2 linked regions of the Homo sapiens genome follow. The protein of the gene in region 1 interacts with the protein of each later gene in a pairwise test. Each region holds a gene or a part of one and is shown on either strand. Other genes may lie near its edges. The genes, in order: NLRP12 and PYDC2.

The links.
Region 2: the proteins of NLRP12 (region 1) and PYDC2 interact in a two-hybrid assay, tested with the Homo sapiens proteins (one study listed by IntAct).

The regions. Positions count from the first base shown.
Region 1 is NC_000019.10:53,821,160-53,829,247, forward strand, and holds the start of NLRP12 (NACHT, LRR and PYD domains-containing protein 12), read right to left. Parts: upstream 3,156-8,088; 5' UTR 3,016-3,155; coding exon 2,727-3,015; intron 2,719-2,726; exon of another isoform or gene 2,622-2,718; intron 1-2,621. UniProt on the Homo sapiens protein: Plays an essential role as an potent mitigator of inflammation. Primarily expressed in dendritic cells and macrophages, inhibits both canonical and non-canonical NF-kappa-B and ERK activation pathways.
Region 2 is NC_000003.12:191,457,081-191,462,082, forward strand, and holds PYDC2 (pyrin domain-containing protein 2), read left to right. Parts: upstream 1-4,082; coding exon 4,083-4,376; downstream 4,377-5,002. UniProt on the Homo sapiens protein: May play a role in innate immunity by disrupting the interaction between PYCARD and NLRP3, thereby regulating the NLRP3 inflammasome. May also inhibit NF-kappa-B signaling distally by affecting the nuclear accumulation of RELA.

The sequences.
Region 1 (8,088 bases):
AGATTAGCAGGGATTACTGGCGCCCGCCACCACACCCGGCTAATTTTTTTGTATTTTTAGTAGAGACAGGGTTTCACCATGTTGGCCAGGCTGGTCTCGAACTCCTGACCTCAGGTGATCCATCCACCTCAATCTCCCAAAGTGCTGGGATTACAGGCGTGAGCCACCGCACCCAGCTCATTGTGATTATTTTATGAGATAGAAGATATAATAAAAGAAATCATGTTGGCTGGGCACGGTGGCTCACACCTGTAATCACAGCACTTTGGGAGGCCGAGACGGCTGGATCATGAGGTCAGGAGATCGAGACCATCCTGGCTAACATAGGGAAACCCCGTCTCTATTAAAAATACAAAAAATTAGCCAGGCATGGTGGCGGGCACCTGCAGTCCCAGCTACTCGGGAGGCTGAGGCAGGAGAATGGCGTGAACCCAGGAGGTAGAGCTTGCAGTGAGCTGAGATTGCGCCACTGCACTCCAGCCTGGGCGACAGAGCAAGACTCTGTTTCAACAACAACAACAAAAAGAAATCCAAGAGTGCTAAGGAGGCACAGAAGTGGGGTTTCTGAGCCAGCCAGAGTGGTGGGAGCGAGGAATCAGAAGGAGTGGGGGAAGAGGAGTAAATACTTTACTTTAGAGAAGGTAGTGGCTTCAAGGTTTCAGTAAGTAATACTTTTCCAGGCAAAGAAGATGGAGAATATTCCAGGCAGAACACAGCATGAACAAAGACCAAAGGGATGAAATTAGAATTCTGTACACAGTCATAAAAAAGAACAAAATCATGTTCTTTGCAGTAACATGGACGCAGCTGGAGGCCATTATCCAAAGCAAACTAATGCAGGAATAGAAAACCAAAGACTGCATGTTCTCACTTATAAGTGGAAGCTAAACATTGGGTTCTCATGGACAGAAAGATGGGAAGAAGAGACACTGGGGACTCGTGGCGGGGAGAAATCTCACCATTGGGTACTATTACTATGTTCAAGTACCTGCATGATAGGATCAATCTTACTCTGAATCTCAGCATCACTCAATATACCCATGTAACAAACCTGCACATGTACCCCTTGAATCTAAAAGTTGAAATTTTTATATAGATATAGATGTGTGTGTACGTAAATTAGAATTCCAGATCTCCCAGGCTCAGGGATTAGTATGAAAGAAAAGGGAATTGGTGGCCAGGCAGTGGTCATTCATGCCTGTAATCCCAGCACTTTGGGAGGCTAAGGTGGAAGCTCGCTTGAGCCCAGGAGTTCAAGACCAGCCCGGGCAACATAAGGACACCTCATCTTGGCCGGGCACAGTGGCTTATGCCCGTAATCCCAGCACTTTGGGAGGCTGAGGTGGGTGGATCACGAGGTCAGAAGTTCAAGACCAGCCTGGCCAAGATAGTGAAACCCCGTCTCTACAAAAAATACAAATACAAAAAATTAGCCAGGCATGGTGGCAGGTACCTGTAATCTCAGCTACTCGGGATGCTGAGGCAGAAAATTGCTTGAACCTGGGAGACGGAGGTTGCAGTGAGCGGAGATTGCGCCACTGCACTCCAGCCTGGGCAACAGAGCGAGACTCAGTCTTAAAAAAAAAAAAAAAAAAGGATACCTCATCTCTTTCTTAATTTATTTTTGAGATGGGGTTTCACTCTGTTACCCAGCCTGGAGTACAGTGGTGCAATCTCAACTCACTGCAATCTCCACCTCTCAGGTTCAAGCGATTCTCCTGCCTCAGCCTCCCATGTAGCTGGGACTATAAGCGTGTGCCACCACGCCTGGCTAATTTTTGTATTTTTAGTAGAGACAGGGTTTTGCTATGTTGGCCAGACTGATCTCGAATTCCTGACCTCAGGTGACCCACCCGCCTTGGCCTCCCAAAGTGCTGGGATTATAGGTGTGAGCCACTGCACCTGGCTACCTCATCTCTTAAAATATATATACACACACACATATACACACACATATATATACACATATATACACATATATATACGTGTGTGTATATATATATAAATTCCAGATCTCCCAGGCTCAGGGATTTTATATATATGTATTTTAAATATTTATTTTAATAATATATGTATTAAATATTTAATATATAATATTTATTATTTATATATATTTATATAATATACCATATTTATATAATATAGTATATTTATATAATAAATATATACTATATTTATATATAATATATACCATATTTAATATATATTTAATAATATAATTATATACATATTTTAAATATATATTTAAAATATATGTTTTAAATATATATATTTAAAATATATGTTTTAAATATATATTTTAAATATATATTTAAAATATATATTTTAAAATATATTTATTTAAAATATATATTTAAAACATATATTTTAAATATATATATTTTAAAAAAATATATTTTAAATATTTGAGGCAAGGTCTCGTTCTGTCACCTAGGCTGGGGTGCAGTGGCAGGATCATAGCTCACCGCAGCCTCGACCTTCTGGTCTCAAGTGATCCTCCCACCTCAGCCTCCTGAGAAGCTGGGATCACAGACGTATACCACCACACCTGGCTAATTTTTTTTATTTTTGGTAGAGACAGAGCCTCACTATGTTGTCCAGACTGGTCTTGAACTCCTCACCTCAAGTGATCTGCCCTCTTCAGCCTCCCAAAGTGCTGAGATTACAGGTATGAGTCACTGGACCCGGCTGGCATTCTAGCCTTGCCTGTCCCGCCACCTCCTTACCCCTCACCAGGTCCTCTCTCTGTCCTCTCTCCCACAGGTCCTTCCTGTTTATCCGCTCAAAGGTGCTGAGAGCCAACCTCCAGGCCTCCTCTGGCCCGAAGTGGGTGATGAGCAGCTGGGCCATTTCCAGGGGACCGGCCTTCTCCATGCTTCCCCAGGGGATCTTGCCTTCTCCCAGCTCTGTCGCGGTCCCCAGGTATAACTTGAACTTCTTCAGTTCCACAGCCTCGAGTTCTTCCAAGTAGGTGGACAGGCGACAGAGGCCGTCCCTGCCTGCGGTTCGTAGCATGGGGGTGCCGTGAGCCCCAAAGGAGAGGACCTGGAGGCTGAGATGCTCCTATGCACGGGACACAGGGCGACCCCAGCACACCTTCCATTGCATCATTCACAGGCAGCGGGCGGAGAGGCTGAGCCAGTGGTTGGAGGAGAGAGCAAGGGAGGAAAGACCTTTTGCTGAAATAATGCTTTCTCACTCTTCAGTTCCCTCCTGCCCTGCCCCACTCACCAATGGCTGTTCTGGGTGGAGAAGAGGAAGTTCGGGGGGAGATTAAGAAATCCGAGGAGCCACTTGGCTGATGAAAAAGATTTTCACTTCTGCTGTCTCTTCCTGGATCTCTTGACAAAACAGTCACTCTCTTTCCGCTTTCCTCTTGTTTTCCTCATTTCACTAGTGTGTGTGGTAGAGTGTATTATCAAAACTGCGACTGCGCCTCTTCCAGGGAGAATTTTTTTTTTTTTGAGACAGAGTCTTACTCTGTGGCCCTGGCTCTGCGATCTTGGCTCACCGCAACCTCTGCCTCCCAGGTTCAAGCGATTCTCCCACCTCAGCTTCCCTTGAGTAGCTGGGATTACAGGCGCCGGACACCACACCCAGCTAATTTTTGTGGTTTTAGAAGAGACAGGGTTTCACCATGTTGGTCAGGCTGGTCTCGAACTCCTGACCTCAGGTGATCCACCCGCCTCAGCCTTCCAAAGTGCTAGGATTACAGGTGTGAGCCACCGTCCCTGGCTTTTTTTTTTTTTTTTTTCTTTGAGTCAGAGTCTCACTCTGCCACCCAGGCTAGAGTTCACTGGCGTGATCTCAGCTCACTGCAACCTCCGCCTCCCAGGTTCCAGCGATTCTCCCACCTCAGCCTCTCAAGTAGCTGGGACCACAGACATGCGCCACCATGCCCAGCTAAGTTTTTGTAGTTTTGGTAGAGACAAGGTCTTCTTATGTTGCCCAGGCTGGCCTTGAACTCCTGAGCTCAAACGATCCGCCCACCTCAGCCTTCCAAAGTGCTGGGATTACAGGCATGAGCCACTGAGCCCAGCCTCAGGGAGAATTATTAAGGACCTCACGTAGGTCTGCTATTTTTTTTCTGTTCTCTCAGTCACAAGAGTGGCATGAGAGGGACTTTGCGGTAGGCAGGATGATGGTCCCCAAAGATATTCATGTCCTAATGGCCAGAACCTGTGACATTTCACCCTACATAGCAAAAGAGACTTAGCATATGTGACCAAATGAAGGCACTTCAGATGGGGACATTATCCTGGTTATCTGGGCAGGACCCATGGAATCACAAGAGTCTTTTTTTTGAGACAGAGTCTTGCTCTGTTGCCCAGGCTGGAGTGCAGTGGCACGAACTCGGATCACTGCAAGCTCCGCCTCCCAGGTTCACACCATTCTCCTGCCTCAGCCTTCCGTATAGCTGGGACTACAGGTGCCCGCCAACACGCCTGGCTAATTCTCTTTTTTTTGTATTTTTAGTAGAGATGGGGTTTCACCATGTTAGCCAGGATGGTCTTGATCTCCTGACTTCGTGATCCACCTGCCTCAGCCTCCCAAAGTGCTGGGATTACAGGCGTGAGCCACCGCACCCAGCCACAAGAGTCTTTATAAGAAGAAGACAGGAGGGTTAGTGTAAGAGGAAGATGTGACTGGGTGCAATGGCTCATGCCTGTAATCCTAGCACTTGGGGAGGCCAAGGCAGGTAGATCACCTGAGGCCAGGAGTTTCACACCAGACTGGTCAACACAGTGAGGCCCCATCTCTACAAAATATGTGTTAGCAGAATTTATGAATTCTGATGGAAGAGCAAGTTTATAATTCCCTCTGTCTCCTGCATCATGCCAACTTTGTTTCATGCTCCTAATCAATTAAGACCCCTCAGACACACACACACACACACACACACACACACACACACACACACACACACAAAAGCCTTCATAGCCAGGCGCAGTGGCTCACACCTGTAATCCCAGCACTTTGGGAGACTGAGGCGGGCAGATCACCTGAGGTCAGGAGTTTGAGACCAGCCTGGCCAACATGGTGAAACCCCGTCTCTACTAAAAATACAAAAATTAGCCGGGCTTGGTGGCACGCACCTGTAATCCCAGCTACTTGGGAGGCTGAGGCAGGAGAATCACTTGAACCCGGGAAGCAGAGGTTGCAGTGAGCCGAGACTGCGCCACTGCACTCCAGCCTGGGCAACAGAGCGAGACTCTGTCTCAAAAAAAGAAAAAAAAAATTAGCTGGGGTTTGGTGGCGGGTGCCTGTAGTCCCAGCTACTCAGGAGGCTGGGGCAGGAAAATCACTTGAACTCAGGAGGCGGAGGTTGCAATGAGCCAAGATCCCGCCATTGCACTCCAGCCTGGGTGACAGAGTAAGACTCCGTCTCAAAACAAAACAAAAAAAACCTTCACAGCTTTTTATGAGACATTCTCCCACATCCAGTCCCTTCCAGGACTAATATTCTGTTGCATGGCATGCAGCAGTTTTGAGCAGGGGAGGGATGGAGTCAGGTCTGGGTTAAGGAAGATTCCTCAAGGCCCTTGTGGAAGGCAGACCAAACAGAGGAGGCCTGGATTGGGAGAGCGAGAAGCTGAAGCCTTCATGTTTCAGGAGATGGAGATAATGCCTGAGTAAGGGCAGGCGGTGGGTGCATCCTGGGAGTGTGGGGATGGCAGTGATCATTAGAGGGGAGGAGAAAGGTTTGGCAAACCTGAACTACCTACAGACCCCATCTGAGCTTCCTCAAGTGGCTCACGACGCAGGCTCCTTCCACGCCACTGCTGCAGGTGGTGGTAAAACTAATTTCTAGGAATTCGGAAGCGAGGCTTGGGGGAAGCTGAATCCACATCTGTCTACTTCATGCTTCCACTTTCAAGATAGAACTTTCTCATGGGGAAAGAAGAGAATTGGCAACTTCTATAGCTGCTTCTGGGCTTAGTGCCATTTCTGGAAACACAAGAATGAATCTAAAGACAAGGAATGCCATTTTCCTTTTTTTTTCTTTTTTTTTTTTTGTTTTTAGTAGATGGGGTTTCACCATGTTGCCCAGGATGGCCTTCAACTCCTGAGCTCAAGCGATCCTCCCACCTCGGCCTCCCAAAGTGCTGGGATTACAGGCATGAGACACCGCACCCAGCCCAATTTTCCTTTTTTAAAAAATTTTTTTGCTGGGTGCAGTGGCTCACGCCTGTAATCCCAGCATTTTGGGAGGCTGAGGCGGGTGGATCATTTGAGGTCAGGAGTTCAAGACCAGCCTGGCCAACATGGTGAAACCCCATCTCTACTAAAAATACAAAAATAACCTGGGTATGGTGGTGGGCACCTGTAATCCCAGCTACTTGGGAGGCTGAGGCAGAAGAATCACTTGAACCCAGGAGTGGAGGTTGCAGTGAGCCGAGATCACATCACTGCATTCCAGGCTGGGTAACAGAGACACCATCTCAAATAAATAAATAAATAAATAAATAAATAATAGAAGTTGTCACCACCACCTGCTTGCCACTCCCTTGAATTCTTTCCTGTGTGAAGCCAAGAACTATCCCGGGGTAAGCCCTGTTTTGGGGCCTCACTTGCCTAGCATCACAAGGATAAACCCATTCAAAGCAGGTGCTAATTTGCCCTGTTGGTTTTCAACTAGAAGAGAAATTATTATCATCAGGGACATTTATAAAAATTATATATAGAAGGCTGGGTGTGGTGGCTCACGCCTGTAGTCCCAGCACTTTCGGAGGCCAAGGTGGGCAGATCACTTGAGGTCAGGAGTTTGAGACCAGCCCGGCCAACATGGCGAAACCCCGTCTCTACTAAAAATACAAAAATTAGCCGGATGTGCTATCGCGCACCTGTAATTCCAGCTACTCGGGGGGCTGAGGCACGAGAATCACTTGAACCTTGGAGGTGGAGGTTGCAGTGAGCCGAGATCACGCCACTGCACTCCAGCCTGGGTGACTGAGTGAGACTCTGTCTCAACAACAACAACAAATTAAAAATAAAAAAATAAATAAAAATACAAAAATTATCCAGGCATGGTGGCGTGTGCCTGTAATCCCAGCTACTCGGGAGGCTGTGGCAGGACAATCTCCTGAACCTGGGAGGCGGAGGTTGCAGTAAGCCGAGATCACACCACTGCACTCCAGCCTGGGCCACAGAGTGAGACTCCGTCTCAAAAAAAAAAATTATATATAGATGAAATATTTTATATACATTACAATAAGAATTATAAATATATAAATATGTATATGAAATTGGTCCCTCTCTAGACTTCCTGAATCAGGATCTTGGTGGGGCAGGGGCCATCAAACATATGTTTCTTTTTCCTTTTTTTCTTATATTAATTTTTTGAATAGAGATGAGGTCTCACTATGTTGCCCAAGCTGGTCTGGAACACCTGAGCTCAAGTGATCCTCCCACCTCAGCCTCCCAAAGTGCTGGGATTACAAGTGTGAACCACCACGCCTGGCTAAATACATGTTTTTATAATATAAAGCTCCCCTAGTGATTCTGCTGAGAAACATTTCTCTGTGTTAGTACTAGAAAGGCACAGAGAAATGCTTGTTTTTCTATCAGCAGAATTTCCCTTTTGCCATTCCGGAAGAGACCTGTTTCCTTTGAGGGAATACTTTGAGAAGTCACTTGAGTATGAAATCTGTTAACTGGAGAAATTTTGCAGTATGGTGTTTGCTTGTTTGCAGGTAAAACTAAATCATTCAGGATAAAAAGGCATTTTAGAAGCCACGTGGGGAAAGGCAGAAGGAAAGGAAATAGGAGGTGTCAGGTGCCTGGGAAGAACATTTGGAGGGTTTATGGAGATGAGTAATAGGAATTTAAATTGCTTTACTATATGGTGTACGATGAAAACTGTCTTCTACCCCAACCAAACCCATCATCAGTAAAACCTATGCTGCTCGCTAGCACGTTGTGAACATGGATTTGCTGCGTTTTTTTGTTTTGTTTTTTTGCTTTTTCTGAGACAGTTTCGCTCTTTCTGCCCAGGCTGGAGTGCAATGGCGCCATCTTGGCTCACTGCAATCTCCTCTTCTCGGGTTCAAGCGATTCTCGTGCCTCAGCCTCCAAGTAGCTGGGACC
Region 2 (5,002 bases), on another chromosome or scaffold:
TCTTGTTCTCTATAGTTATCTCTGATTTAGTAATCAGTAACTTCGACACCATCCCCATTATCTCTGGAGCAATAGGCTATTTTTGCAAAGTGACTGACAATATAAATCAGATTATAGTGCTCGTGGTACCATCACGGTGGACAGATGCACAGAGAGTATTTCTAAAGAAATACTCATAGAAGAGAGAAAAACATTAAAGTGGTTGCAAGAAGAAAGCATTGCAGAATGTGAACATTTGTGGTCTACTTTTGTGAATTTTTAATAAAGGGTTTCTGGCATGTAGAACTGCTGTGTCTTCATTAGAATAATGTGGAGGCTGCTACCAAGTAGGACACATATTCCAGGCGAACCAGGGTACGACTGGGAAGAAAGGACTCTGAGTATATTAGTTTTAAGCATGATGCTCCCTTCCCATAATACACAGTAAAAGCCAAATACAGGATTTCCTAACGTGAAAAGCAGATATGCAGAAGTGGGAAGAGACCTGATTTTGAATTGGAACATGTGAATCTTTATCCCAATTCTGCCAAGAACTTGCCATGTATCCTGAGGTAAATCCTCTTTCCTAGCTTGACCTTTGTTTCTCAATTCAAAGATTCGCTTCAAAGATTTGAACTTGGCCAGGCGTGGTGGCTCATGCCTGTAATCCCAGGACTTTGGGAGGCTGAGATGGGTGGACCACCTGAGGTCAGGAGTTTGAGACCAGCCTGATCAACATGGTTAAACCCCATCTCTACTAAAAATACAAAAAATTATCCAGGTGTGGTGGCAGGTGCCTGTAATCCCAGCTACTTGGGAGGCCGAGGCAGGAGAATCGCTTGAATCTGGGAGGCGAAGTTTGCAGTGAGCTGAGATCGTGCCACTGCGCTCTAGCCTGGGCAACAGAGTGAGACTTGGTCGCCCACCAAAAAAGGTTTGAACTTGATGACACCAAGAGCTGCTTCCTGCCCAATGACTTTATCTTAGTAAAAATTCTATGTTTTGATTCTTTTTGAAATATGAATTATTTAATGCAAGTAATACATTTGTGTGGTTCAAAATGTATAACTATCAAACGAGCACTGTGAACACCTCCCTTCCATTCCCATCTGTGTCTACCATGTTCTGTACTAATTTCTACTTTTACTGATTTTTAAAATATCTTTCCAGAGTTTCCTTATGAAAATTCAAACAAATATAATTTATATCCCACCTCCCATTTCTCTCACAGGAGTTACATGTGCCTTGTTTTCTTTTGTTTTTTTCTTGAGATGGAGTTTTGCTCTTGTTGCCCAGGCTGGAGTGCAATGGTGTGATCCTGGCTCACCGCAACCTCCATCTCCCAGGTTCAAGCGATACTCCTGCCTCAGCCTCCCGATTAGCTGGGATTACAGGCATGCACCACCACGCCCAGCTAATTTTGTATTTTTAGTAGAGATGGGGTTTCTCCACGTTGGTCAGGCTGGTCTCGAACTCCCAACCTCAGGTGATCTGCCTGCCTCGGCCTCCCAAAGTGCTGGGATTATAGGTGTAAGCCACCGCACCCAGCCAGCATGTGCCTTTTTTTAAACTGAATATATCATGGACATTTTTATGTATCACTATGTAAGCCACTCCTCATCCTGTATTTAGCCTCTTGCTAAATACAACAGATACAACAGATCCTCAAATAACATTTTTTTCAACATCATTTTGTGTAACATTGATGAGGAAAAAAAAATTCCAAACAGGGGCCACTGTCTATATGGACTTTGCATGTTAGCATGTTCTACCCATGTCTGCATGGATTTTCTCTGTACTCTACTTTCCTCCCACATCCCAAAGATGTTAGGTTAATTGGTGTGTCTAAATGCTCGCAGTCTGCGTGAGTGTACCCTGTGATAGGATGGCGTCCTGTTCAAGATTGGTTTCCACCTGGCACCCTGAGCTGCCGCATAACCTCAGGCCACTCACAACCCTGAATTGGAATAAGTGGATAAAAAATCATCTTACTCATTTTTATTAATCTGTTTAAAATGCATGTAGGGCTCACATTTATTTCTATGTTTAATATTAGAAGTGTTTTGGTTTTTATTTAGAACTTCGGTGATGTTTTTGTGACCAGCATGCCATAGGAATTTAACTCTTGCTTGTATGAGTTAGCCTATGATAAAATTGTTTTTGTTATACATCATTTCATTCAAAGTTGCAGTTTCCAAGAATCTATTGAGGACATTAAGTGAGTATTTTGTTCTTACAAATAATGCTATGCAAGCAGACACACCTGTAAGACAAATACTAGAGGTGGAAAAGCCAGGTCAAAGAGCAAATGCTCTTGTCGTTTATATTTTTCAGGACTGCCTTCTCTAGGGTTCATATAAATTTATACTCAATCTGAAACATGCACTCCAAAAAATACAAGCAAATTGAATACAGTGACCTATAAAAAGAATTATACACAATGACCAAGTGGGATTTATCCCAGGACGGCAAGGTTGGTTTGAACATATGAAAATCAATTAATATAATTCATCATATCAGTAGAATAAAAACAAAAATTACATGATTATCTCAATAAACACAGAAAAAGCACTGGACAAAACCCAACTTCCTTTCATGATAAAAATACTCCCAACTGGAAAATAGAAGGGAGCTTCCTCAATCTGATAAAAGTTATCTATGAAAACTCATAGCCAAAATTATATTTAATGGAAAAATGATTTTTGTCCTAAAATCAGGACCATCTCAATGCTATCTGCTCTTAGCATGACCATACAACATTACATTAGTGGTGCTAGCCCTAGCAACTAGACAAGATAAGAAAGGCAACTGGATTGGAATGGAAGTGAAAGTGTCTGTATTAGCAGATAACATAATCTTGTATATAGGAAATCCTAAAAAATTCACTCGAAACCTGTTAGAACTATTAAATGAGTTCATCCAGGTTTCAGGATACAAGATCATACATAAAAATCAGTTTTTCTTCTACACACTTGTAATGAACAGTCCAAAACTGAAATTAAAACAATTCCTTTTAGAATCATATCAAAAAGAATAAAATACCTAGAAATAAATTTTAACAAAGAAGTAAAACTTATGCTCTGAAAATTACAAGACATTATTGAGAGAAATTAAAGAGCTAAATAAGTGGAAAGCATCTCGTGTTTATAGATTGGAAGGCTTAATTTACATTGTTAAGATGGCACTACTCCCCAAACTGATCTACAGATTCAATACAATCCCTGTCAGAACCTCAGCTTACTTTATGTAGAAATGGGCAAACTAGTTAGAAAATTCAAGTAGTATCGCATAGACCCAGTACAGCCAAGATGATATTGAAAAATAAGAGCAAACAAAGACAATTCACCTTTCCTTATTTCATGACTTAGTAATTTATTTAGTATTTCCTCATTTCATGACTTAGCATCTTAATGGTAATTAAGATAATGTGGTACTGGCATAAGGATAGGCACATTGCTCAATAAAACAGAACTGAGAGTCCAAAAATAAGCCCGTACATCTGTGGTCAACTGACTTTCAACAAGGGTTTCAAGACCGTACAATGGGGAAAGAATAGACTTTTCAACAAATGATGCTTAGGCAAGTAGATTTCTACATGCAGAAGAATAAAGTTGGACCTCTATTTCATGCCACATACAAAAATTAACTCAAAATATATCAAATACCCAAATGTAAGAGTTAAAGCTGTAATATTCTTATAGTAAATGATAGGGGTACATCTTTATGACCTGAGACTTGGCAAAAGATTCTTAGACATGACATCAAAAGCATAAAAAATAAGAAAAAAATAGATAAATTTGATTTCATCAAAATGAAAAACATTTGTACCTTAAAGGACACCATCATTAAACTGATAAGACAACTCACAGAATGGGAGCAAAAATTTGCGTATCGCGTATCTAATGAAGGACCTGTCCCTAGACTATATAAAGAACTCTTACAACTCAGCAATAAAAAGACAATAACGCAATTTTATAATGAGCAAAAATCTGAACTGATATTTCTTCTAAAAAGATATAAAAATATATACTTATTAGTATATGAAAAAATGTGAGAACCAGAGCATAGGGCCAGGCGTTGGGAGAGCTCCCACATAGGACAAGATGGCATCTTCTGCAGAGCTGGACTTCAACCTGCAGGCTCTTCTGGAGCAGCTCAGCCAGGATGAGTTGAGCAAGTTCAAGTCTCTGATCAGAACAATCTCCCTGGGAAAGGAGCTACAGACCGTCCCCCAGACAGAGGTAGACAAGGCTAATGGGAAGCAACTGGTAGAAATCTTCACCAGCCACTCCTGCAGCTACTGGGCAGGGATGGCAGCCATCCAGGTCTTTGAAAAGATGAATCAAACGCATCTGTCTGGGAGAGCTGATGAACACTGTGTGATGCCCCCACCTTAACCCCTCAGGGATAGTGAGTTGATGGCTGAGCTAGATGTTGCTTTAGCCTTGGTTCTGCCTCCATTTTACATGCACATGTTGCTTAACCTTGTTATATATGAAATATCTATATCACCAGTATTTTGAGATAAATAAAGGTGAAATAATTCACAAACATTAAAAGAAAAGATGCCTGACAACTTTAGTATTCAGGGAAATGCAAATCAAAACTATGATGAGATACCACTTCATATCCACTAGGCTGGCTAGAATAGAAAGATAATAACAAGTATTGGCACAGATGTGGAGAAACTAGAATCCTCATATACTGCTTATGGAAATGTGAAATTGTGCAGCCACTTTGGAAAACAGGATGGCAATTTCTCAAATGATAAACAGAGTTCTCATATGATCTAATATTATATTTATAAGTACATGATCAAGAGAAATAAAAACATAAACACAAATGTTTATAGTGTCATTGTATACAATAGCCAAAAGGTGGAAACAACCTAATGTCTGTGAATGGACAAATGAATAAACAAATTGTGGCATATGCAGCTAATGAAATATTATTCGACAAAAATGAAGTATTGATCACATGCTTAAACATGAATGAACATTGAAAACACTATGCTAAATGAAAG